Linked DNA regions of Homo sapiens: regions 2, 3, 4 and 5 are each linked to region 1. The links come from fine-mapping of genetic effects on gene expression. A gene starts in region 1. Each other region holds a variant in brackets. All regions are shown on one strand. Distances are between the middles of the regions. Region 1 holds the start of SUSD6 (sushi domain containing 6). Region 2 overlaps SUSD6 (sushi domain containing 6). Region 3 overlaps ERH (ERH mRNA splicing and mitosis factor). Region 4 overlaps SUSD6 (sushi domain containing 6). Region 5 overlaps SUSD6 (sushi domain containing 6).

Region 1 (5,103 bases):
CTGCTCAGGAGGCTGAGGCAGAGAATCGTTTGAACCTGGGAGGTGAAGGTTGCAGTGAGCCGAGATCGTGCCACTGCACTCCAGCCCGGGTGACAGAGCGAGACTCCATCTCAAAAAAAATAAAAAATAAAAAAGAACACAAGTTCAATCACCACACCTCAGAGACTGACCAGGAAAACAGACAAAGTGCTGAGGTCTCTTTATCTGCCAGCCTGTATCTGTAACACCTCATTCTACCCTTCTTTCTCTTCTATCTCACCAAATTCTGGGCTTTCAGAAGGCAGGCTTCAGCGAAAGAAGTCAAACTTGCCCATTTGACAGTGGGTTTGCTCTCAGGGTTTAAACACTGAGCACCCTGGCACCTGTCTCTATCTAGGTGTAAGTGAGGATTTGTTTCATATGCCATTTCTACTACAGTATCCAAAAAATTACTCTGCAGACAGGAAGTCCTATCTATCAGGACTCATACCAATACTGTCCTCTGTTTAACTCGCTGGGCAGAAGTTCCTTCAGCAGCAAATGGCCAGCAATGAAAGCTAACAACATAAACCAAAACAAATGGACTTAAAGGCTGTGAGTCCATGAGAGCTGGATTCTGACTTATTCAATGCAGTACCTGCAATACCTAGCACAGTGCCTGGCATACATTCGGTATCACATAACTACTTGGGAGTACTGAATGAAAGAATGAACAAATGAATCTTATGCAAACATACCGTAAGTGTGTACCCAGGAGAAAGAGTTTAGAATGCTCATGATCTGAGAAACAGCCTGAAGCAGCAGTGCTTTCAGAAGGTTTTAGAAAGACTCCAGGTTCAATTTTATCAAAAGGTAAACAAACCAGAAACTAGCAGTATAATCTAGTAGTTCAGACTGTGGGCTCCACCATGAGATACCTATGTGACATGGGCGAGTTATTTAACTTGTTTGGTTTGGGTCTCAACTAGAAGAATGGGGATAATAATATCTACATCAAAAGTCTGTTATTAAATGAGTTCAAAAAAGTAAAGCCCTTAGCACAAAGGTTGGTACTCAGTAAGTCCTCAAGAACCTTTCCATATTATTGCTGCTTAAATACCTTCTTTCCTGAGATGTAGACATACCTCCCCCAACTCCAGGAAAATTTTAATTTCTGGTTGAATATGCTTCTAGCTAAAAACACAAAACCCAGAGAACTCAGAAGTCAGTGCCAAGCACATGTCTCTACTAGCCTCCACTAGATGGTGACAGTTTGGGTGTGGAATTCCCAAAACAGAAAAGGTGTGTGTGCGTAACTCCTATGTATGTTTTTACACCAGAGGAACGAAAACAGCAAGAAATGAATTAACTACTGTGAAGGAAAGACATACTTCCCATCTCTGTAGATCAAAAAAGGGAGTAAATCCCTAGGCCTAATTGAACTGAGTAATCTTACTGCACCTCTGGAAGAGCACACAGGAGCCCAGTTAGCGAGAGCAACAAAGCCCAGCATGTCGCCTGCCACTGAAAGAAAATTCTGTGGGAACAACAGCTTTAGGCCTCCTTGCCCAGACGCCAACTTCCCTTTAACCAGCCCAAGACTTTATTTTGACGCCTCTTTGCTCCTGGGTCTTGCTGTCCCCATAACCACCTCCCCCTCCTGCTCCTAAATTCGTCCAGGGTAACTTTTCTCCACTTCAGCAGCTCCCCAGCCACGACTCCCATGAGGGAGAGTCAGATCCACACTCATAGCTGGGGTCTCAAAACCAAGCGAAAAAAGGAAAGTCTGTATGTACGTGCCTACTTTTTGAAAGAAAATAGCTGGTTTCGGGGAGTTTAGCCTGGTTAATAAGAGAAGTTTTTGAGATTAAAGAGCAGCCGAGGCGCGGGGGCTCCCGAATGCCGCGGTGCGCACAGGCGGGCTCTGAGATTTCCTCAGGAAATCCACCTTCTCTAAGCCAGCCCTGCCCCAGCGCAAGCCCCGCAGCTTTGCTGGGCTGAGGGCAGTAATGACAGTGGCACAGAGGGCCTCTGCCTACCTCCTCTGCACCCATCGGCACGGCGTCTGGCTCTTCCGGTGCTGCCCGGGCAGCGACGCGGGACGGCGCGCCCCGGACCGCGGGTCACCAAGTTCCCGGCCGCAAACCAGCCGCCGGTCCCCCCGGCCGCGCAGCCCCCACTGCTGGCCGGCTGGCCGCGCCACGCCAGCGCGGGGCTCCCAGCGGCGCGGCTCGCGGCCGGGTGACAGCGGGCCGGCGCAGAGAAGCGCGGGGAGCCGCCGAAGCCGGCCCGGGCTCCGGCCAGCGTCACTCCTGGGCGGTGCGCGCTGGTCCCGCGCCCCTGACAGCCGGCCGAGCGCGTCGATGGCACAATGCCGGCCCCGCCGCCCCCGGGCCGCGGTGACAACTCACCCGGGAGCCGGCGGAGACCTCCGGGATGGGGGCGCTCACAGCTTCCACGCCGCCGCTTGCGCGCGCCCGCAGTCTTCTCGGGTCTAGGCGAGGCCCCGCGTGCCCTTGTCTAGCTCGCTCTGGCCGGCGCTGTGGGCAGAGGAAGCGGGCGGGAGGGAGGGAGGAGGTGGGGCGGTCGCCGGCTTCGGAGAATAGAACGCGGCGGTAGCGACGGCTGCAGCGCCCGCGTCACTGACCCAGCTGTACCGCGCGGGCGGGGGAGGCCCCGCGGAGGGGAGGGGGCGGGGAAGGGGCGGGAAAGGGGCAGGGCCAGGCGCGCACGCAACGGCGCCGGCGTCGCGCCGCCGCGACCGCCCCGCCGGGAGGCCCTGCACGCACGCGCCGCCGGCCGGGCCAGGTACCCAAGGGAGAAGCGACGCGGTTGGGGAGGTGGGGGGTCCTTAAAGAGACAGTCCCTCTGCGCTGGAGTGGATGGGGCGGTGGCACCGACTCAGCTGGACTATGCGGCGTTTCCAGTGCGCTCTCCAGTTCGTTTACTATTATTATTATTTGCATGATTGAATTACTATTATTTGCAAAGAATTGTACTGCCCTGAGGTTTACAAGGCTTTTGGCGCATGTTGCCTTGTTAGCTCTTGAATTGCTCGTCTGACCTAGCTCGTCTGAAGCAGGTTATTATCTCCCTGTTAAGCAGTAATCCGAACTGTGGTTCCTAGCCTGCCAACATTAAAGCTGCCCGGGGGGTGGGTGGGGGTGAAAATGCAGATTCGGGGCCCCGAATGACCTCCAGCCATTGTGATTCAGTGGGGTCGGACTTGGGAATCTGTATTTTCACTAGCATTCTGAAGTGAGTGATCCTTCAGCATACTAAAAGCACACAAGGGATCTCAAGGTTGAGAAAACCGCAGTTCAGAGCCAGGACTGGCAGAGCCCGGGCTAGAAGCCTGCCACATTCCTAACTGTATTTCCCCTCTTGAGCCTTGCCTTCTGGGGCTATTTTCTAGCACATACTGAGTGAGCAGTTTGTGCACTGTATGGCTACATCGTTTATTGGTGATCTCTCATGCAGTGTGTCCTCGGTTTATGTGTTTACAGGGCCCGTGGCGCCTTGATGGGGAGGACTCTGGCTTTTTATCTTTGTACCCCAGGGCCTTGCACCGTGTCGGTCTCAGAGGTCCTCCATAAGTGTTAAGGAACTCCTACTTGTAAATCAGTGGTAGAGTCCACATCTGGACCTACAGACTTGTGTCTTTGCTGCAGCTTGGGTCAGGCAGGCCTCTTCTCCCAGATGCTCTTGGACAAAAGGATACACCTTCTCAGGGCCTCTCACCAGGCCTAGTTCTAGTAGGCTTTCGGGAAAAGCACTGTGAATTAACAGGGCATGTCCTTGTGAAGTAGCTTGAACCAAATAAACAGGATGCTCCTCCCCATGCACACAGACCCATCCCCAAAAGAACCCTTCCCTTCTGGGCCCCACAGCAACCTGTGGCTCGTTGCTATAATGCCTTTTTCATAAGTCTATCCTTGTTCTGCCTTCTTTCTTCCTTGCCTTCTTGGGTCCAGACTCATTAGAGAAGATGGGCACCCCTCCCTTCCTGCTCATTTGGGGCCACACTGCCCAGACCACTAGAAGATTGAAAAGCACAATTCAGAACTACCTGGGTCTGCCTCAGAGCACAACCAAATCAGTGTGGGCAGCAGGAACATGCCAGGCAGACCCAAGGCTCAGGGAGGGGACAAGGGGGAAGGAAGCAAGGGAAAGGGATGGAGGAAGAATTGGAGAAGATGAATGGAGGAAGGAGAAAAAGAAAGAAAGGAAAGGGAAGAAAGCAGGCATGGATGGTTCAGGTCAGATCAACTGCCAAAGTAACTGAGCCCCTGGCTGTGCACTGAAGTCAGTTTGGCCATTAAGAGGCTCAGTAACTTCATACAAGAACTGCCACCTTATAAAATCCCTTGTGAGACCCTATGCAGATCTGTCCATCACTACCCAAAAATCCTCAGTCGGGCGCGGTAGCTCACGCCTGTAATCCCAGCACTTTGGGAGGCTAAGGCAGGCAGATCACGAAGTCAGGAGTTTGAGACCAGCCTGGACAACATGGCGAAACCCCTTCTCTACTAAAAATACAAAAATTAGCCAGGCGTGGTGGCACATGCCTGTAATCCTAGCTATTCAGGAGCCTGAGGCAGGAGAATTGCTTGAACTCAGGAAGCAGAGGTTGCAGTGAGCCGAGATCGTGCCATTGCATTCCAGCCTGGGTGACAGAGTGAGACTGTCTCAAAAAAAAAAAATCCTCTCCCAGACCTTCAGGGTCCACAGAATGAACTCAAAGTCATCAGCAAGGACTGTAGTATCCTGTGCTGTCCACAGTCCGGCCCAAATGCTCTCCATCCCTCCACACACCCCACTCCAGCCTCCCCATACCACCTGCTGGTCTCTAACAAGCCATTCCTGTCACAAACCAGGTGCCCATGCTGTTTCCTCAATCTTGAAGGCCTTCTCTACTTACCCTTCAGAATCTTCCCAAGGCTGCTGCTTCTACTTTTCTGTGGCACTTTGGTTGAGCCCCAAAGTGCCACAGAAAAGTATTAAATTAAAATTTTTAAACATTTTAAATATTTAATTATTTATTTATTTATTTTGACGGAGTCTTGCTCTGTCGCCCAGGCTGGAGTGCAGTGGCATGATCTGAGCTCACTGCAACCTCCGCCTCCCGGGTTCAGGGGATTCTCC
Region 2 (5,103 bases), 79 kb before region 1:
GAGTCTGGCTTAGAGTTTAAAACAGGGTTGGACTCTTGGGTACAAAGGCCAAAATTGTGGTTTCATTTCCAATCCTACCAGCTAATGGTAACTCCTAATGCCAAGTACAGTCCCAGGCATACACAGCAGGGCCTCAAGAAACACACAATCAAATTTAAAACAAATTTAATGATCTCTGTTGCCAAAAGGATACAAGTAAGGAAGAGAATTAACATTTATCACCAGGCACTGCACTGGTACTTTAAAAGTGTTATCCTATTAAATTCTTCCACCCTAGGAAGAAGGTGGTATAAAACTTGATTTGTTCAGAAAAAACTGAGGCTCTGAAAAATTTAGTAATGGACTGAGGTCACCTGGATTCTAAGTACTAGAGTCTGCATTCAAATTCTGGCTGGCCCTTCTACAAGGAAGCTTCTTGATTTTTTCTGATGCCACCAGAAAAAAATTTACCCCAAGACCTACAAAGTATAACATAGGGGTGGGATACATATGGACAAAAGCTGCTATAATTCCTGTTTGGAGAAGAATATGGCCTGGTGAGTTTAGTTGTGCCCAGAGGACTCAGTTCATATCTCAGGTGGGGCCACATTTTTCCAGAGAAGTGGAGGGAAAAGGCAGGACAGTTTCCTTCACTAATTTCTGTGTACTACACACAATGGAGCTATTTAAGGATCACAGACAGCAAAGTTGCAAGTGGGAGAAGATATGTAGGCATTTTCAGCTGAGAACACATGACTTCTTTTTTTTTTTTTTTTTTGAGACGGAGTCTCACTCTGTCACCCAAGCTGGAGTGCAGTGGCATGATCTCAGCTCACTGCAACCTCCGCCTCCCGGGTTCAAGCAATTCTCCTGCCTCAGCCTCCTGAGTAGCTGGGACTACAGGTGTGTGCCACCACACCGGGCTAATTTTTGTATTTTCGGTAGAGACAGGTTTCACCATGTTGGCTAGGCTGGTCTTGAACACCTGACCTCAGGTAATCCACCCGCCTCAGCCTCCCAAAGTACTGGGATTACAGGCGTGAGCCACCAAGCCTGGCTGAGAACACAAGACTTCTAAGACGGATATGTGAAAGGAAGGTTGTCACTAAATGCAGAATGGGGATGTGACCTGGAATTAGAGGGCTACCTTTCTGCCACTGCCCAGAACACACAGGGCCACTGGGTTATCACTGCCAAAGCCTGAAATAAACAGCCTCTGCCACATACTCCCAAACAGGGGGTCAGGTAGTGTGCTGATTCTCTTAGGCACTCAACAGGCCACTGCTACTCACAAAGGCCTAGACAACCGCAAAGAAAGAAAGGAAACACCAGTAAACTCTAGTTATGGATGGTAACAGAAATCCACTGAGGCAATGGCCCCAAATCAGCAAAACACCATAGGTCTTTGAGAAACACCAGCAGTTGAGGGGTGGAGGTCTGAATGGGTTTTTTGTCGCTGTTGTTTTGAGATAGAGTTTTGCTCTGTTGCCCAGGCTGGTGTCTAGTGGCACGATCTTGTCTTGGCTCACTGCAACCTCTGCCTTCTCCCAGGTTGAAGCAATTCTCATGCCTCAGCCTCTTGTGTAGCTGGGATTACAGGTGCACACCACCAAGTCCGGCTAATTTTTTGTATTTTTAGTAAGGACAGGGTTTCGCCATGTTGCCTGGGCTGGTCTTGAACTCCTGACCTCAGGTGATGCACCTGCTTCAACCTCCCAAAGTGCTAGGTAGGATTACAGATGTGAGCCACTGCACCCAGCCCTGAATGGTCTTTTCTGAAGAAAGAGATGTGACTGGGTCTAAGGCATACCATGAAGTGAGCCCTGTACATTCTGGGGGGTGGGGTCCCACCATGAGACAGGGACTACAAATACAAAAGAGACAATAAAAGGTGTGTGGTTTTTTGGTGCGGGGGGAGAAGGCTGGACGAAGCCACAAGTCTCATCTCTATTGCCTCTAAACCAACAAGCCTAAGGAACTCTGTA[C/T]TCACTGTGCACAGGCAGGTGGAGCGGAAGTTACCAAGTCCATTGACCTGGATATTCTTCCTCCTTCATCTTGTGCGGGATGAGATTCTCTGTTTTGAACAATCTTAAATCACAAAATTTTAAACCACCTTCTCCCAAATGACCACCACGGGAAAAGCAGTTTGCCATGCCTTCTTGGTTTCCTTTGCACTTCTCCAGAGGGGAACTTTCACCAACTGATTCTGGACAGTGAGGAGTCAAATCCCCCTAGGAGTTCTCTTCTTCACTACTTTGAACTTTTGCATCTTGCTCAGCATACCGTGCTCCTGGAAGATCCCTCTGCTCCTCTTACAAGCTTTCTCTTTGAATCCTTCCCACATGCTTTTCTCTGAGGAAGCCACATTTAAGCCTCTTTAAGGATCTTTAAAAACAACAGGAATGCATTCAAGCCTGCTGCAAAGTCCAAAGAAGGATGGATGCCTGGCCCTGAAGGTCTAGGACTGGCCTTTGATGTTAGCCTGTGTACATATTGGTCTGGCTCTAGTAAAACAAAACAACCTCAAAATAGTGAAACTTGGGCCTAAACTAGCTAACAGTCAGGAGTAGAGTCTCAACCATGCTTATTTATCAGGGTGAGGACCATGCCCCTGTCACCTGTCATGGCCTCTTTGGCTCTTTGGACCCTAGTCTCTCGCAAGCCACTTTTGACTGACCAGTCTGAGATGCCCAGTCAGAAGACAATGCCTCGGACAGCCTCACACACACTGCATGTTGGTAGATAACTATGTCTAAATGCCACATTGATGTACAGAAAATACCTTTAATCTCTTGTCCTCCAGACAGCAGGTTTAATAACTAATAACTTTCACTCAAAAGAGAGTAAAAAAACACGGGCATGGTGTCTTAGGCCTGTAATCCCAGCACTTTGGGAGACCAAGACAGGCGGATCACTTGAGGCCAGGAGATCGAGATCAGCCTGGCCAACATGGTAAAACCTTGTATCCACCAAAAATACAAAAATTAGCCAGGCAACGTGGCACACACCTGTAATTCCAGCTACTCGGGAGGGCTTGTCATGAGAATTGCTTGAAGCCAGGAGGTGGAGGCTTCAGTAAGTGGACATCATGCCACTGCACTCCAGCCTGGTGAGAGCGAGACTCCATCTCAAAAAATTAAACAAATTTTTAAAAGTATTTACAAGTGTTGATTCTTATTCTCTCCAGGTTTCACTTTCCTAACAAATTCCTTCATTAATTTAACAAATTTCTATTAAGCACTATGTGTTAGGCTGCTGCTAGAAATTCAAGGGCAAATAATACACATGGTGTGCCCTTGAGGAGACTTCAGTCTCTTTGGGAATACAGATAAGGAGCCCCAACAAGATTAAAATAATAGTAATATCTACTGCTTCTCTTCCAGAATCCATGTAAGGATTATATTTACCCATTCATTCTTTTTTTCTCTTCCCTCAGCTTAATTCTGCCATTCATTTTTTCAACAAGTTTTTACTAAGTACCAAAAGCACTGTGGCAGGTGAAGGTAGGCAGGTGGAAAGATAAAAAGATATTGGTCCTACACTCTAGGAGCTTTCTAATAAACGACTATAATAGATATATGTTAGAAATCAATATGGGCTACAGAAAGTTCTGAAGAAGGATTAATCCAATGGGGAAGAGACCAAAGAAGATTGTAGAAATGGTATCAGAGCTCCAACTTCACGGGAAGTAGGATCATGAGTACGGGATAAAGGATTATGACGGGGATAAAGGAGAGTGGGAAGAACATGGTGGGGGACATAAAGGCACAAACAAAGGCAGAGAATCAAGAAGAGGTGGTATGTGTACGGAGAAGTTAGCAAATGTTTCCAGGTTTAGCAGGAGATAACTGAACATTTAGAAAATCAGGCTGGTGCCAGAAGAGGGTAGGCCCTGAATGCAAGGCTAAAGAATGTGGAATCTTGGGTTCCTCTTCCATGAGATGAGATTTTAAGGACACTTCTAGGCCTATAATGCAAAGCCATGTTATTCATAATAAAATGAAAGCCTGCTAAATAGTACCAATCCCACTGAAGAAGCTGCCCATATAAGTCTGCCTACATCCCCTGGAAACTATTTTCCAATGGGCTGGATGTGCTGACAGGGTGGAGTGGGGAAAGGGGAAGAAAACGGAAAATCCATTGCGAGTTTTCCAGTGCAGATTCATCATGCTTCTCAAGTTTGCCTAGGTGAGAGGGGACAGGAAAGAACTAAAGGGGCTGGAGCACACAGAAAAGGAATACAAAGATATCTTGTGGTCAGTTTCTTTTCCAGGGTTCTCTCACATGGCAGCAGATGGCCTATCCCTGGAGGACTGGATCCAGAAAGCAGCTGCTCCCAGGTCCTGGTTCTAACAGCTGGGGTCACAGGTCCTCTATGCACAAGCTGAATGCCAGAAATCAATGGGTCCCATTGTGCCTGCATGCATGCATGAGCTCTCACGTCCAGGCTCATGCTCTATAACTGCCTAGAACAGAGGACTGGGAAAAATAACACTACACACTTTGAAGGACTACATTTGCAAACTAATGGAAAGATAAGAGTATTATACAATCCAATTTTATTCAAATTACCTTGACTTTGCTAGGTAGCTACTAAGATGCTAATTATTTGGGAGATAGAGGGTCAAGAGGGAGGTGGAAGAGGAACAGAAGTAGGGCAGATCATAATCAGAAGCTAATCAGTAAATACATCTAGTCTTCTTCTTTCTGCCCAATGCAGAGAGGAGTCTGGCTCTACCACAACAACCAAAAAGCAGGCTAGATGTTTCATGTATTAGAAAAGGGCATACAAATTCATAAAACAATGTGTGTGTACACAGAAGAGTATAACTGTATAATTACATAATTAGGCACATTATAAAGTATTTATACTGCTGAGACTAAAAGCCCCTACTCAAAGGCATTCCACCAAAGTTGAAAAGGGAAAAAAAAGAAAAAAAACAAAAAGAAAAAAAAGCATCTAATTGCAATCTTCCACAAAGCCAGACATCCCCAGCTGGTGCCACAGCTGAATTCTCTTAATTAACAGTTGTAACGGCAAGTACGAAAGACACTGTATGCTTATCAACTCCATGTCGTGGCCAGCCAGGCATGGGAGAAGCCCACAATACTGCTATAATTAGA
Region 3 (5,103 bases), 220 kb after region 1:
TGGCTGCTTTAACCTAGCAATATGCTTTTTTTTTTTTTTTTTTTTTTTTTTTGGCGTGCGAGACAGAGTCTTACTCTGTCACCCAGGCTGGAATGCTGTGACGTAATCTCAGCTCACTGCAACCTCTGCCTCCCTGGTTCAAGCGATTCTCCTGCCTCAGCCACCCAAGTAGCTGGGATTACAGGCCTGCGCCACCATGCCTGGCTACCTTTTTTTGTATTTTTAGTAGAGACGGGTTTTACTGTGTAGGCCAGGCTGGTCTCAAACTCCTGACCTCAAGTGATCCGTCCACCTCAGCCTCCCAAAGTCTGGGGATCACAGGCATGAGCCCCCATGCCTGGCCAACCTAGCAGTATGCTTTTATGGTTCTTACTTTTTGTGTGTGTGGCTGCATAGCTGATTTCTTTTTATTGCTGAATAATATTCCCTTGAATGAATGTACCATGGTTTGGTTATCCATTCACTTATTGAAGAGCATCTTGGTTGCTTCTATTTTTTGGCAATTATGAATAAAGCTGCTATAAACATTTCTGTGTAGGCTTTTGTGTGGACCTAAGTTTTCAGCTCATTTGCGTAAATACGTAGGAGAGTGATTGCTAGATTATGTGGTACAAGTATGTTTAGCTTTGTCAGAAACTGCCAAACTGTCTTCAGACGTGGCAGGACCATTTTGCATTCCCACCAGCGTGAATGAGTTTCTGTTCCACATCCTTACCAGCATTTGGTGTTGTCACTGATTTAGATTTTAGCCATTCTAAGGTATCTTATTGTTTTAATTTGCAATTCCCTAATGACATACAATGTCATCTTTTCATGTGCTTATTTGCCATCTGCATCTTTATTGAGGTATCCAGATCTTCTGCCTATTTTTCATTGAGTGATTATGGTTAAGTTTTAGGAGTTCTTTGTATATTTTTAGACATTAGTCCTTTATCAGATAGATGTTTTATAAAGGTTTTCTCCCCGTTTGTGGTGTCTTCTCACTTTCTTAATAGTGTCTTTTGGAGCACAAAAGTTTTTTATTTTTATAAACTTTAACTTGCATATTTTTGTGTTTTTGGTGTCATATCTAAGAAACCATTGGTTTATCCAAGGTCACAAATATTAATGCCTTTATTTTTTTCTATGGGTCTTATAGTTTGGGCTCCTACTTTTAAGTCTCTGGTCTGTTGTAGAGATGTGTCCAACTTCATTCTTTCACATGTGACTATCCTGTTGTCCTAGCATCATTTGTTGAAAATACTGTTCTTTGTTGAATTGTTTTGGCATGCTTGTCAAAAAGCAGTTGACCATAAATGTGAGGGTTTGTTTCTGGACTCTCATTTCTGTTCCATTGATGTAGATACCTATCCTGATGCCAATACCATATTGTCTTGATTGGAGTAGTTTCATAGTAAGTTTTGAAATCAGGAAGTTTGAATCCTCCAGTGTTTTTCTTTTTCAAGATTATTTTGGCTGTCTTGGGTCTCCTGCATTTCTGTGTCAAACTTAGGATTAGCTTGTTGGTTTCTGCAAAAACAGCTTGGATTTTTATGGGAATTGCGTTGAATCCGTAGATCATCTGAGGGAGTATTGGCATCAGGTCTTCCAACTCATGAACATGGGATGTCTTTCCATTTATTAAGCATGGTGTGGTGGCTTTACTTTCTGCATGGCGTGGTGGCTCACACCTGTTATCCCAGGACTTTGGGAGGCCAAGGTGAGCGGATTGCTTGAGCCCAGGAGTTTGAGACTAGCCTGGGCAACATGATGAAACCCCTGCTCTCCAAAAAGTACAAAAATTAGCTGGGCATGGTGGCGCGTACCTGTAGTCACAGATCCTTGGGAGGATCACTTGAACTTAAGAGGTCAAGGCTGCAGTGAGCTGCAATTGGGCCACTGCACTCCAGCCTGGGCAACAGAATGAGACTGTGTCTCAAGGGAAAGAAAAGAGTCCTTCCATGACATTTTATAGTGTAGGGTGTACACGTTTTGTACTACTTTTGTTTCGTTTATTTCTAAGAATTTTATTCTTTTTTACGCTGTTATAAATGGAGTTTTCTTAATTTTATTTTCAGACTTGTTGTTAAGGCATAGAAATAAAATTTATTTTCATATACCAATCCTATATCCTGCAACCTTGCTGTACTCATTTCTTAGTTCTAATAGATTTTTATTGTTTCCTTAGGATTTTATATCTGTAAGATAATGTCATCTGCAAATAATGATGGCTGTACTTCTTCCTTTCCAATCTGAAGGCCTGTTATCTCTTTTTCTTGCCTAATTGCCCTGGCTAGAACTTCTAGTACAATGTTGAATACAAGTAGCGCAATAAATATTCTGGTATTCTTCCTAATCTTAACAGAAAAGCATCCCGTCTTTAACCATTAAGTATAATGGAGGCCGGGCATGGTGGCTTATGCCTGTAATCCCAGCACTTTGGGAGGCCGACGCGGGTGGATCACCTGAGGTCAAGAGTTCAAGACCAGCCTGGCCAAAATCGCAAAACCCCGTCTCTACTAAAAATACAAAAATTAGCCGGGTGTGGTGGCACACACCTGTAATCTCAGCTACTCGGGAGGCTGAGCCTGAGGCAAGAGAATCGCTTGAATCCGGGAGGCAGAGGTTGCAGTGAGCCGAGATTGTGCCAATGCACTCCAGCCTGGGCAACAAGAGCAAAAAATCCATCTCAAAAAAAAAAAGTATAACTGTGGGTCAATGCCTTTTTAACATATACGAATTTATTTTCCTAGTTTTTATTTTCTTTCCATTCATTAACTCATGGGTGATATTCTGTGATCACAATGTAGTATGCCAGTAGCAATAAAAAGCCCTAAGATAGTTGTTTAATAGTTCTGTGGTTGAATAGT[G/A]TTTTTATTAGGAAATTTATAAAGTTAATTTGGAGCTAATAAAAGGCTTATGTATACAGTATAGGACATGTTTTTTCTAGATAACTAGCATTTATGTCACTTAGCCATTCATCATAGTAGTCTTAAAATAGTTGACAGCGGGAATAGACTGAAAAGGTGTATTCTCCTTTTGTGGGAATAAGAAAGGAGAGTATCAGGCCGGGCACGATGGCTCAAGCCTGTAATCCCAGCCCTTTGGGAGGCTGAGGCACGCTGATCACCTGAGGTCAGGAGTTCAAGATCAGCCTGGCCAACATGGTAAAACCCCGTCTCTACTAAAAATACAAAAAGTTAGCTGGGTGTGGTGGCGGGTGCCTGTAATCCCAGCTACTTGGGGGGCTGAGGCAGGAGAATCGCTTGAACCCAGGAGGCGGAGGTTGCAGTGAGCCAAGATCTCATCATTGCATTCCAGCCTGGGCAACAAGAGCAAAACTCCATCTCAAAGAAAAAAAAAAGGAGAGTATTATTGAATAAAAACTAAATAGATAATATACTCTATAGCTAATTATAATTAGTAATGTGGGCTTGCTATTAATGATTTTGCTCATTATCTTTTTTATTATATTTAAGTACTTATATCCTTGTTCATGTGCTAATGCTTTATGTGTATTATTTCAAATAAACCTCACAATTCTATGAAGAGGCACTCTTAACTCTGTTTGACAGGTGTGGTTCAGGGAATGGCGTCGTTTGTCCTCGGTTTGACAGGGGCAGAGTTGGAACTAAAGTCTGTCTGAATCCATAGTCTAGGATTTTTTGTTTGTTTGTTTGTTTGAGACAGAGTCTTGCTCTGTCACCCGGGCTGGAGTGCAGTGGCCGATCTCGGCTCACTGCAATCTCCACCTCCCAGGTTCATGCCATTCTCCTGCTTCAGCCTCCCGAGTAGCTGGGGCTACAGGTGCCTGCCACCATGCCTGGCTAATTTTTTGTATTTTTTTAGTAGAGACAGGGTTTCACTGTGTTGGCCAGGATGGTCTCTATCTCCTGACCTCGTGATCCGCCCGCCTTGGCCTCCCAAAGTGCTGGGATTACAGGCGTGAGCCACTGTGCCCGGCCTAGTCTAGGATCTTAAATATACATTAGGATAATCTCTTTCCTTGTTGCCAATTTTTTTTTTTTTTTTGCTCTGTGGCTTTAGGAAGAATTACTGAAAAACCTGTTAAGACCCACAGTGTTATTTGTTTGAGCCATCAGATGGCAAGTCTTTAAAGCCCCTTAGCTCCAGTGGTTTGAAGTAATCATTTTATTATTAAGACACAAAATAGTTACATCAACATTGTGGTGAATTTCTCAGCTGCCCAGACTGGAGTGCAGTGATGCAATCACGGCTCACTGCAGCCAAGTGATTCTCCCACCTCAGCTTCCCAGGTAGCTGGGACCACAAGCACACGCCATCACGCCTGGCTAATTTTTTAATTTTTGTAGAGATGAGGTCTCCCTGTGTTGCCCAGGCAGGCTGGTCTTAAACTGTGGGGCTCAAGTGATGCTCCTGCCTCAGCCTCCCAAAGAGCTGGGATTACAGGCGTAAGCCACTACACCTGACCTGGTGAATTTATAAAATAAAAAAGTATTTGCTAGTGGCAATAATCAAAAGCCATCAATCTATCATCTTTTCCCCAGCCCAACTTTATTAAAGTAAATATGATATCAACATATAGCACAGCTCATAAGCACTGCTCATATCTAGAAGTGTATGCGATTGTAAGATTTTGCTTTTTTTCCTATCCTTTCTTAGGTGTTTGTAAAATGTATGAAGAACATCTGAAAAGAATGAATCCCAACAGTCCCTCTATCACATATGACATCAGTCAGTTGTTTGATTTCATCGATGATCTGGCAGACCTCAGCTGCCTGGTGTAAGTATTAGCCAACATGTCTTTTATCTTGTATTTTCTATTGCTTTTCTGTCTGTTTGAGGTGATTTATGGTATTGGGAGCTAATTATGTGCCTGATACTGATCTTTGCATTTGCATAGTGTATAGTAATTAATATTTCTCTTACAGAAATAAGAGATTGGCAACATAAAGCCAAAGGCACAGAAAAAAATAACTTTGCTAATTGATATAGTTAGTATCCAGAAAGGATCCTAATTCAGAAGTTCCATGTGCCTCTTCTTTGTTCCTTATACCTAATTTTTTTTTTCCTTTACAGTCTTTGTCTTAAAGCCATTGGTTTTGGATTAAAACTAAGATTATCTTTTTTTCATGACATTTC
Region 4 (5,103 bases), 110 kb before region 1:
GGATTGGATGGTCCCCAAGCCCGGTAATGCTCCTTCATCACCAGGCAGCTTGGAGGATGAACCTAGGCTCAACTTGGGAATGTGTCATGTCTCACCCCAGGTTCACAGCTGATGAAATTCCCTTTTCAGTAACAGAAAGAGAAAAGCCTGGCAAGTGCCCCCAGCTCTAGTCCCAAGGAGAAGTGGGAAGACCTGAGAATACAGAGCATTCTCCTCACCTTTCAGAAGCAAGGCCCAGGGAGGAGACAGGGGCTGCCTGGGTCTCCTGGCCTTGCCTGATCTTTCCAGGGACCCAGAACCCATCCTGACTGCTGAGACTGCTGAGCATCTGGGACTGCATTTTGCTAAATGGCTTGGTGTCCTGGTTTTGGACATTGCTGAGAGGGATTCTTGGGCAGGATAGTAGGTGTGAAGGGGTCAGGTGATCAAGAACCCAGGGAGAAAAGCTGGGGAGTAGAAGAGGTGAGCAAGTGAGCAGCGTGAGGTGAAGAGGCCAGGAGTGGCACACCTGAATTCAAACCGCAACTCAGCTGAGGATGCATGACCTATGTGGTCTTGGACTGTACTTGAATCTCTCTGAGCCTTACTGTCCTCACCTGTAAAAAGGGTAATGACATCTGCCTTGCAAGACTGGCTGAGTTGATTGATTAAAATAACACCTCTCTCTCTCTGTCTCTTTTTTGTTTCTTTGTTTTGGAGACAGGGTCTCACTCTGTTGCCCAGGCTGGAGTGCAGTGAAGCAATCATAGCTCACTGCAGCCTCAACCTCCTGGGCTCAAGCAGTCCTCCCACCTCAGCCTCCTGAGTACCTGGGACTACAGGTGCAAACCACCTCACCCGGCTAATTTTTAAAATTTTTTGAAGAGATAGGATCTTGCTCTGTTGCCCAGGCTGGTCTCAAACTCTTGGCCTCAAGTGATCCCTCCCACCTCGACCTCCCAAAGTGCTGGGATTGCAGCCATGAGCCATTTCTCCTGGCCTAAAATAGTATCTTTAAAGCACCTTACCCAGTCCCGGGAACCTATTAGGTGCTCAGCAAACATCACGGAAGGTTGGGGAAAGGGAAGCTGTGTGGTAAATGTCCTGTGGAGCCAACACTCCCCCACGTGCTCCCCACCAGACCAAAGTCCCTATTGGGGCACAACTGCATTTGCTGCTGTCGCCTCTCATCTTGAAGACAGACCGTGAGACCCACTCTGTATGCAGCTTGGCTTCTGGGATCACTTGAGTGGGCAAGGTTGGGACAGTGCCATTTCCCCCACCCTGGGCCGCTGCTGGGAAGGCAGACCAGCCAGCTTCTACCATGGACTGGGCCACTCAGAATCTCCCTGTGATCCCTTCTTCTCATTCCAAGGCCTGTGGAGAAAAGAAGGAGTCTCCTTTCAGCCGGGCCTTCCCACTACCAGAGTGGGGGATTCAGCAGCAGTGCCTCTGGCCAGCCAGAGTCTCACTACCCTTGCCTCTGAGCTCCCTCCTCTCCTGCCACTTCCAATGCAGGGGAAAGAGGCCGCCTGTCACCCAGTGAGGTGGAAGCAGGTGATAAACAAGGCAGCTCTCTTCCTTCCCTAGTCTCCTCTCCATAGTCTAGGCTGCAGATGGGCCACAGCCTCAGGTTGAGATCAAGACAGGAAGGAAAATAAAGTGCTGCCCCAGGTCTTGAACTCTGGGAAGTATTCCCTATTCATACTGGGGCTCTTTTCCTTGCCTCCTGCCCAGCCCTGATCTGAAGGAACTAGGAAAGGAGTGAAGAGCTTCTCAGAACTTCCCCCAGACACCTAGGCTGCCTCAGGAGGTGATATGGTTTGACTCTGTGTCCCCATCCAAATCTCACCTTGAATTGTAATAATCCCCACATATCAAGGGCGGGACCAGGTGGAGGTAATTGAATCATGGGGACAGTTTCCCCCATGCTGTTCTCATGATCGTGAATTCTCACAAGATGTGATGGTTTGTTTTTGTTTTTTGTTTGTTTGAGACTGAATCTCGCTCTATTGCCCAGGCTGGAGTGCAGTAGCGCAATCTCAGCTCACTGCAACCTCTGCCTCCCGGGTTCAAGCGATCCTTATGCCTCAGCCTCCCAAGTAGCTGGGATTACAGGCATAAGCCACCAGGCCTGGCTAATTTTTGTATTTTTAGTAGAGATGGGGTTTCACCATGTTGGCCAGGCTTGTCTCGAACTCCTGACCTCAGGTAATCCATCCCCCTCGGCCTCCCAAAGTGCTGGGATTACAGACATGAGCCACTGTGCCTGGCCGATGTGATGGTTTTATAAGGGTCTTCCCCCTTCGCTTGGCACTCATTCTCTCTCCTGCTACCCTGTGAAGAGGAGCCTTCCCTCATGATTGTGAGTTTCCTGAGGCTTCCCCAACCACGCAGAACCATGAGTTAATTAAACTTCTTTTCTTCATAAATTACCCAGTCTCATGTTATTTCTTCATAGCAGCATGAGAATGGACTAATACAGGAGTTTGTCCTCAGGTGTCGCTCTTCCTTCCAACCTCTCCAGGAGCAGCATTCAGGGCCAAGGGAGCCACGGTGACTCTAGCGCAGTGAGTCATAGGTGTTCAGGATGCAGAGGGAAGTTGTGTTGGAGAACAGGATGGGGCTGGGCTCCAAAGCCAAGCAGAAGAGAGTGGACTTGCTGAAGATGGTGGGACAGGGACACACACTGGACCTGGACTAGGGGCTTAGAATTTCAGCCCAGCTCTGCCACCAACTAGCCATGTGGTCTTGATCAAATCAGAGTACAGCCATGCACATCAGTGCCCTCGTCTGTAAAACTGGGCATTTGAAACAAATGACTACTGAGGGTTTGTGGTTTATTTTCTTTCCTGCTCTAAACAATAAAGCAAGACTCATGAAGAGTTTCTGAGAAAGAAAATGATGTCATTCAAGCCAGGTCTTGGTAGAATTAGCCTGGAAGTGGGGTGCTGGGTGTTGAAT[C/T]AGCTGCGCATTGTGGCTTAAGCCAGTGGGGTTTTCTGTTCTTGCAACATAAAGAAGCCTGCATGCTGTGGGCAGTGTTCTTTGAGGCAGATATTAAGACACTGGGCTGTGAGACAATCATGTTTGAGTCCCAATTTCCATCATTTCAGAGCTGTGTGACTTTATAATAAAGCTTCGCTACACTATTTTGAGCCTGTTTCTTCACCTGCAAAGTCAGGGTTAATCAGAATGCCCACCCCCTGGTGCAGCTGCCAGATCTGGAGTTACTGCAGGCCAAGAGCCTAGAAGGGCGCCTGGTACATACGGAAGCACTCAGTAGACGCTGGCTTGCATCAACATGAATCCTGGCATGCTGCCAGCTATCTTTTGCTTTTGGCTTCCCTGAATGCATTCCCACCATTTCTCCCTGTGTTCCTGCCCTCCTCACTGCTCCTGCCCACTGAACTGCCGGCAATGCCTACTGTTGCCATAGTTTCCCCAGATAAATAGAATGCTTCCCTTATTTTAACTTGGACCTCACTGCCTTCTTCCTGAAACCCTTGGTGTTTTGGGAGCCATCACCACAGTTCCTTCTCTCTTCCCGTCTGCTCCAAGACATCTGCCCTTTCCAGGAATATAATCCAAAGCCTTCCTTTTGTGAGCTCATTTCAAATGTGCTCCTTGCCACACTGAAGCTGTGGTGGCTTTCTGCCCGGTTTGAACCTCCCTTTGCTGTTGTCCCTCCCTTGCCCAAGCACCCGCACCCCACCATACTGAAGATTTGGTGGTCAAGACTCCTGTGTTTTGTTTTTTTTTTTTTGAGACAAGAGTCTTGCTCTGTTGCCCAGGCTGGAGTGCAGTGGTGCGATCTCGACTCACTGCAAGCTCCGCATCCTGGGTTCACGCCATTCTCCCGCCTCAGCCTCCTGAGTAGCTGGGACTACAGGCACCTGCCACCATGCCGGGGTTTTTTTTTTTTTTTTTCTGTATTTTTAGTAGAGACAGGGTTTCACCGTGTTAGCCAGGATGGTCTCCATCTCCTGACCTCGTGGTCCGCCTGTCTCGGCCTCCCAAAGTGTTGGGATTACAGGCGTGAGCCACCGCGCCTGGCCAAGACTTCTTTATTTATTTATTTTTTGAGACAGTCTCGCTCTGTCGCCCAGGCTGGAGTACAATGGTGCAATCTCAGCTGGCTGCAACCTCCGTCTTCTGGGTTCAAGCGATTCTCCGGCCTCAGCCTCCCAAGTAGATGGGATTACAAGCATGCACCACCGCGCCCAGCTAATTTTTGTATTTTTAGTAGAGATGGACTTTTGCTATGTTGGCCAGGCTGATCTCAAACTCCTAGTCTCAAGTGATCCAACTGCCTTGGCCTCCCAAAGTGCTCTCCATCCTGGCTCCTCCACCTCTTGCCAGGCACCCTCCCTACAGAGCTAGTGCCTCATCCTTCCATGACCTCCTGCCCACATATGCTCTTTCAATCTAAGGTTTCTGCAAAAACTTTCAGGAAGGATCACATCTCCCAGAATTGCCTTCATAAGAACTTTTTTTTAATTATTTAGAAATGCAGTTATATACATAGAACAATTAAAATTAAATTAAACTTTGTACAAATATTAAAATACTATCTTCACACCCACTGCAATGTACAGGATACCAAAAAATATATATATAAAATAAAATAAAGCAAACCCAAACTGATTGAGTGACATCCTGCACAGAGTCAATTATGAATGTGTTGTTTTAAACCATTATATGAGTACCATTCTGCAAAGGATTCCATAGTGGTGCGATAACCTGAAGAAGCCAGGGCAGGGTGTGGGGACTGCCACACAGCCCACGTACATCTCTCCTCCTTGCTTGGCAACTGAGTGCTTTGCCCCTGCATCCCCTTCTACTAGCTCTGCTGCTTGGCAGAGGGGCTCAACCTTGAGGTTTTCATTCACAATTCTACTAGGGTTTCAACTGGAAATTAAGAGCCATTTCCCAGCAAAGCTGGGCCTGCCACCTTTTCCTCTCTAGGGAACCAGCAACTACACCATTCAGACCAAACATATGCCAAGCAAAATATTCTCCAAGTCCCACCTTGGGGCACCAGTAAGGACTGTCCCTATTCCGAGAGCTGACAGACCCAGCAGGCCCAAGAGAAGCTCCCAGCCTCACTCGCTGTCCTTGGCATTA
Region 5 (5,103 bases), 27 kb before region 1:
CACTAATGCTTTTTGTGCACTGGAATAATATTTAGGAAGGCCTAGTGTTGAGTACAAGGGTGAGAACTCTGTGGCCTTAAAAGCATTTGCAAGTACAGTATCCTCTGAAACTGAAAAAGGATAAAAACCCTTTCTTAGGCTCACATCTAAAAAGGGCATTTACCCATGTTTTATATCTATGTCCTCAGAACGTTACAGACTGTAATTCCAGTCTTACAGCAATAATCACTTAACACACTGGAAAAGAGACAGGAAAAGCTATCAGAGGATTCATCCCATATCAGAATAAAATCAAGTTAGAAATAAAAAATAAGGAGTTAGTCTACCAATGTCAGGCTTGAGCTGGTCTCTCTCCCTTCAAGTGTAGATATTTGTTGGTTAATGTGTCTCACTGCCCTCTACAAATTCAGATAAAATTTATTTTTCACACCAGGTGCAGTGGCTCATGCCTGTAATCCCAGTGCTTTGGGAGGCTGAGGCAGAAGGATCACTCAAGGTGAGGAGTTTGAAACCACCTGGGCAACAGAGTGAGACCCTGTCTCTACAAAAAATAAAAAGAAAATCAGCCAGGTGTGGTGGTGTGCACCTGTAGTCCTGGCTACTCGGGAGACTGAGACAGGAGAAATCACTTGAGCCAAGGAGTTCGAGGTTACAGTAAGCTATGATTGTGCTACTGCACTCCAACCTGGGCAACAGAGTAAGATCTTGTCTCCAAATATATATATTATATATTATATGTGTGTGTGTATATATATATAAATTTTTTTCAGAATGGAAGAATTCTCTTAAGGAGTAAGTGAATGATAGTTACTCAGTTCTTAGCTATGCAATCCAGCCCAGGACAGCAAAATCTCTTCCTCATTAAGCACCCTGGGCTTTGACCCCATTCTTCAGAGTCCAGCCTGGGTCTCTACACATCCTGGAGGAGGCATTAAGGTGGGAGCTTTCCCGGGAGTCTATAGTTAATAGTTTCGTGGTTCCTCCCTCCCCCACTAAACTATAAACTAAACTGTAAATAAACTCCCAGGAAGGCTGGTACCCATGCTACCTTTATAATCTGAGACTAATGCACACTTCCCCCCGCAAAAAAAAAAAAAAAAAAAAAAACAGTGTAGGTGCCCCAGAGGGACTCTCTTCCCCAAAATACTAGTTGCCTGAACCAGTGGTTTTCTAACTGGGACCAATTTTGTGCCACCTCCCCCATTTGGCAATGTCTAGAGGCATATTTGGTTGTCACACCTTGGGGGTAAGGTGCTACTGGTATCTAATGGATAGAGCAAGGCATGTCAACTAAACATCCCACAACACACAGGACAACCCCATACAACAAAGAATCACTTGATCCAACATCAGTGATGCTGCAGATGAAAGCCCTGGCCTAAGTGAACAAAGGATGGGCTGCCAAGATGTCAGTTGATCCACCTTAGTTGTACATGTGGTGCAAAACTCCCCCAAACCACTGGAAAGCCTTTTTGTCCAACCAGCATGTCCCCAGACCAACTCCGTGATTCTCTCATCTCTAACTCAGGTTTACACTCCCTCAGAGAGGGGCTTGGGAATTAAGATATCTGGTTTTTCACCCCAGCTCTGCCCCTGGCTGTGATTCTGGACATGTAACAAAACTTTTCTGGGCCCATTTCCCCCTCAGTAAAATAAACTGGAAAAGAGTAAAAGTTCTTTCAGCTCTAAACTTCTGTTTTAAACGCTAGGTTTGGCCTTATTTCTTTTTTTTTTTTTTTTTTTTTTTTTTGAGACGGAGTCTCGCTGTGTTGCCCAGGCTGGATCCCGGCTCACTGCAAGCTCCGCCTCCCGGGTTCACGCCATTCTCCTGCCTCAGCCTCCCGAGTAGCTGGGACTACAGGTGCCCGCCACAACGCCTGGCTAATTTTTTGTATTTTTAGTAGAGACGGGGTTTCACCGTGTTAGCCAGGATCGAGACCTCAATCTCCTGACCTTGTGATCCACCCGCCTCAGCCTCCCAAAGTGCTGGGATTACAGGCGTGAGCCACTGCACCCGGCCTGGCCTTATCTACTTCTAATGATCCAAAGAGAAACGGGCAAGGACCCAATCTTGTTGTGAGTAAGCACACACACCCTCTGAAGGGCTGTGGTTCTTATACCTTGGAAACCAAACTGGACCAAAGGAGCTCAGAGAAGCCAGCAGCTTAGATAAGAGGGGCCCGCCTAAAAGGCTCTGTAGACACTGGCTGAGAAGCCAGCCCAGGACCTTGGGTTTAAATTACGCAAGTCCTGACTAGCCCCTGTCTTGCCTTCCCTAGGTCAGTCTTTTAAATCAACTATTAAAAGGTGGAATAGGAAGGACACAGCCTTACTATTCAAAGTATGGTCCATTAACAGCAGCACTGGCAGCACCTGGGAGCTTGTTAGAAATGAAGAATTTCAGCCTTCATCCCAGATCTACTGAATCAGAATCTGCATTTTAGTAAGGTTCCCCAGGTGATTCATATGCATGTTAAAGTTTGGGGAAGTCCTGGTTAGGGTATGCTGCCCTTCCAGTCCCTGCTTTGTCACCTCTTCATTTGGTAAAGGTGGCTTTTAAGACTGTCCACAACCCTCATCCTTCAATCCCACACACACACAATTACACACACACACACACACACACACACACACACACACTCCCCACCCCACCCCAGTTCAGAACCTTCAAACTCACACCAAGAGTGATGGGGGTAGATTACTTCCTTTTTGCGTCTTTCTTAGGTCCTTACAAGGCCAGAAAGAGGCAAGGTTTGAAGCACAA[G/A]CTAAATTACAGTCCTTCCAAGTGAGTGATTCAGCCCATCCCTGCCATTCAAAGGCTCTCCAGGAGGAGGGACAGAAAACGGGGTGGTAAACAGAAAGGTATAAACTCTGATGGAAAGAGATTCATCATTTGCATCTGAACAGAGAATAACAAGGGTCCAAAGTTTCATTTCTAACATTTTTTGTTTTTGTTTCTGTTTTTTGCTGCTGCTGTCTTATGTAACATAAAGATTCTTGGAGGCATAGGCAAAAGGGCAAAGCACACACACAGAGTTAACAAAAACACAGCAAGAGTTCTCCTAGCAGAGTGGTGGGGGGCAGCAGCTGGAACAAAACCAAGACCTGGATGAAGCATAGCATAACTGAGCACTGGAAAAGAAGATAGAACGTGGGGAGAAGGGGGGCTGGACTCTGTCATGCAGTCAGTGCACTGAAGTGACTATGCTGCTGCCCCACACTCCCTCCCCTGCACAGGTCACTCACCCCTCTCACCCCACCCGCTGTCACAAGCAGCAGATGGCCCAGCCCTGGGCAGCTGGTCAGAGGACAGCAATCTGCACGTGCTTGCCTGCCCCTCCTCCAGGGCTGGAGATGAGGAGGACCAGGTCAAAGTCAATGCCCATCCCTGGTGGAAGCAATTCTTGCAAGAGTGTCCTGGGGGTGGGGATGGCAACATCACCCAATGCTTTGCCACAATGAGACACACTTCAAAAACAACTCAGCATTATCCAAGGCTCTCCAGCACCCACACACAGCTCAGAAAGAGAGAGCCTTAGGCAGGGTAAGGGTGGAGAGGGTCAGAGAACAGTTCCCAGAGCGCACTGGGGTATGCTGACCCTGGTTAGGGGGGGACATTCATTCCTTCAACATTTGCTGTGTATATACCACATCCCAGGCGCTGCACCAGCAATGAGGGATACAGTGGTGATAGCAGACAGTCTCTGCCCTCAAGAAGCTCAGGTAAGGTCAGGAAGAACAAGGAAACAGACGGTAATATGGTGCGGTAAGTACTGAGCACAGGGTGTAATGCCAGCACCAAGGAGAGGCACCCACACAAGTATGGGGCAAGCGGCAGTCTAAGCTGATACCTGGCTTTAGAAGGTATTAGCCAGACAGAGCAGAAAGAGGTGGGTACAGGGAGTGGTGGGGCATTCCAAGGAGAAGAAACACATCAAAAAGCTGGGAGGCAAAAGAGACCTGGGAACTGCAATCTGTGCTGTCCCAGCCTTTGCTAACTTTGGTCACCTAGACCAGGGGCAGACTCCCGGGTTTGTCACGGAATCCTAACACATTACTGCCTTAAGGAACTTTGGGATCATCTTATAAAATCCAATCTACCCATTTTAGGAGAGGAAAACTGAGGCCTATCAAATGATCATGACTTCTTGAGAGAATGGCTGAACCAGAACCCCATTCTCCTAACTCTCACCAAACAAAGTTTCCTCATATATCTCCCAATCAGAATCTGACCACTGACTGAGCCCTTCTGGACACAGAGCCAGGCCCAGAACTGTTCTCCACTAGGCTAGGTCTGTTCTGAGAACCCAAGGAATAGCTCTCGTCCAGGCCTCTGCCAGACTGGAGGTCCAGCAGCACTAGCCTCCAGGAACTCCAACAAGGTAGGAACAGCTCATGAGAAAAAAAGACTGGCTACCTGCCTCTTCTGGAAAGGAGGCAGAAAGCACACATGGCAGTACCGGAGATAGGCTCTGTGAGTGTATATTGGCAACAATGGGTTCCCCCAGGAAATGAAGAGTTGTTCTAAGAGCTGAAGGAAATTATCAGCCAACACAGAAAGAGGAGGCGAGTCTGAGGTACTGCCAAACCAGGCAGGCTTAATTAAGGCTCTCCCACCCTCTTCCTCAGGAAGCCAGTCCCTACCCCTGGCTGGTCACACTACCTTAACTGTGAGAAGCACTCATTTCAGGGAAGCTGAAGGCCTTCCTCTTGGTCTCACCTCAGGAGGTAAGCCATCAGCCAGGGGTCTGAGCCACTGGAATTTCAGGGCCTAGCTGCCCTTACTGTCACCTCCGTCTATGCCTTCAACAGCAACAGTACTTGCTCTATTGTGGTTCTATAGCCTGCCGCCCACTCCAGGCAGCAAGAGTGTGTGCAGAGTGGAAGAAAGCACTCATTAGCTTTGAGTGTAACCCTCTACAGAATCTAAATAGAAGGCACAGTTATTCAACTGCTAAGGCACAATTCCTCCTCTTCTCATAGTAAAACAAAGATGCATGTCCACACCCACTAGCTGACTAAAAACTGTGCAGAAAGAGAATAAGAGGCACTGGGGTTAAACCAACTTACTAAATTCATCTCAGTCCCTGGCAATCCTCAGTT

Evidence for each region. PIP is the estimated chance that this variant, and not a neighbour inherited with it, causes the effect.
Region 2: its variant is the best candidate, but not a certain one, in a credible set for the expression of SUSD6 in whole blood (TOPMed, PIP 0.66).
Region 3: its variant is the best candidate, but not a certain one, in a credible set for the expression of SUSD6 in whole blood (TOPMed, PIP 0.59).
Region 4: its variant is the best candidate, but not a certain one, in a credible set for the expression of SUSD6 in whole blood (INTERVAL, PIP 0.70).
Region 5: its variant is the best candidate, but not a certain one, in a credible set for the expression of SUSD6 in whole blood (TOPMed, PIP 0.58).

The regions. Positions count from the first base shown.
Region 1 is chr14:69,609,095-69,614,197 of GRCh38, reverse strand. SUSD6 (sushi domain containing 6) reads right to left here and starts at 2,602. Exons shown (of 6, transcript NM_014734.4): 1 at 2,370-2,602. RefSeq lists a silencer at 2,084-2,853.
Region 2 is chr14:69,687,693-69,692,795 of GRCh38, reverse strand. All of the region lies in intron 2 of SUSD6 (sushi domain containing 6), which reads right to left. Among named protein-coding and RNA genes, the nearest start is that of SRSF5, 77 kb to the left of the region's middle. RefSeq lists a silencer at 4,190-4,484. The variant C/T (reference allele first, on the strand shown) is at 1,965.
Region 3 is chr14:69,386,604-69,391,706 of GRCh38, reverse strand. It overlaps ERH (ERH mRNA splicing and mitosis factor), which reads left to right. Exons shown (of 4, transcript NM_004450.3): 3 at 4,624-4,744. Among named protein-coding and RNA genes, the nearest start is that of ERH, 9.1 kb to the left of the region's middle. The variant G/A (reference allele first, on the strand shown) is at 2,850.
Region 4 is chr14:69,714,492-69,719,594 of GRCh38, reverse strand. It overlaps SUSD6 (sushi domain containing 6), which reads right to left. Exons shown (of 6, transcript NM_014734.4): 6 at 4,451-5,103. Among named protein-coding and RNA genes, the nearest start is that of SRSF5, 50 kb to the left of the region's middle. The variant C/T (reference allele first, on the strand shown) is at 2,944.
Region 5 is chr14:69,635,961-69,641,063 of GRCh38, reverse strand. The region is part of intron 1 of SUSD6 (sushi domain containing 6); the gene reads right to left. Among named protein-coding and RNA genes, the nearest start is that of SUSD6, 27 kb to the right of the region's middle. RefSeq lists enhancers at 2,794-3,306, 3,342-3,391. The variant G/A (reference allele first, on the strand shown) is at 2,765.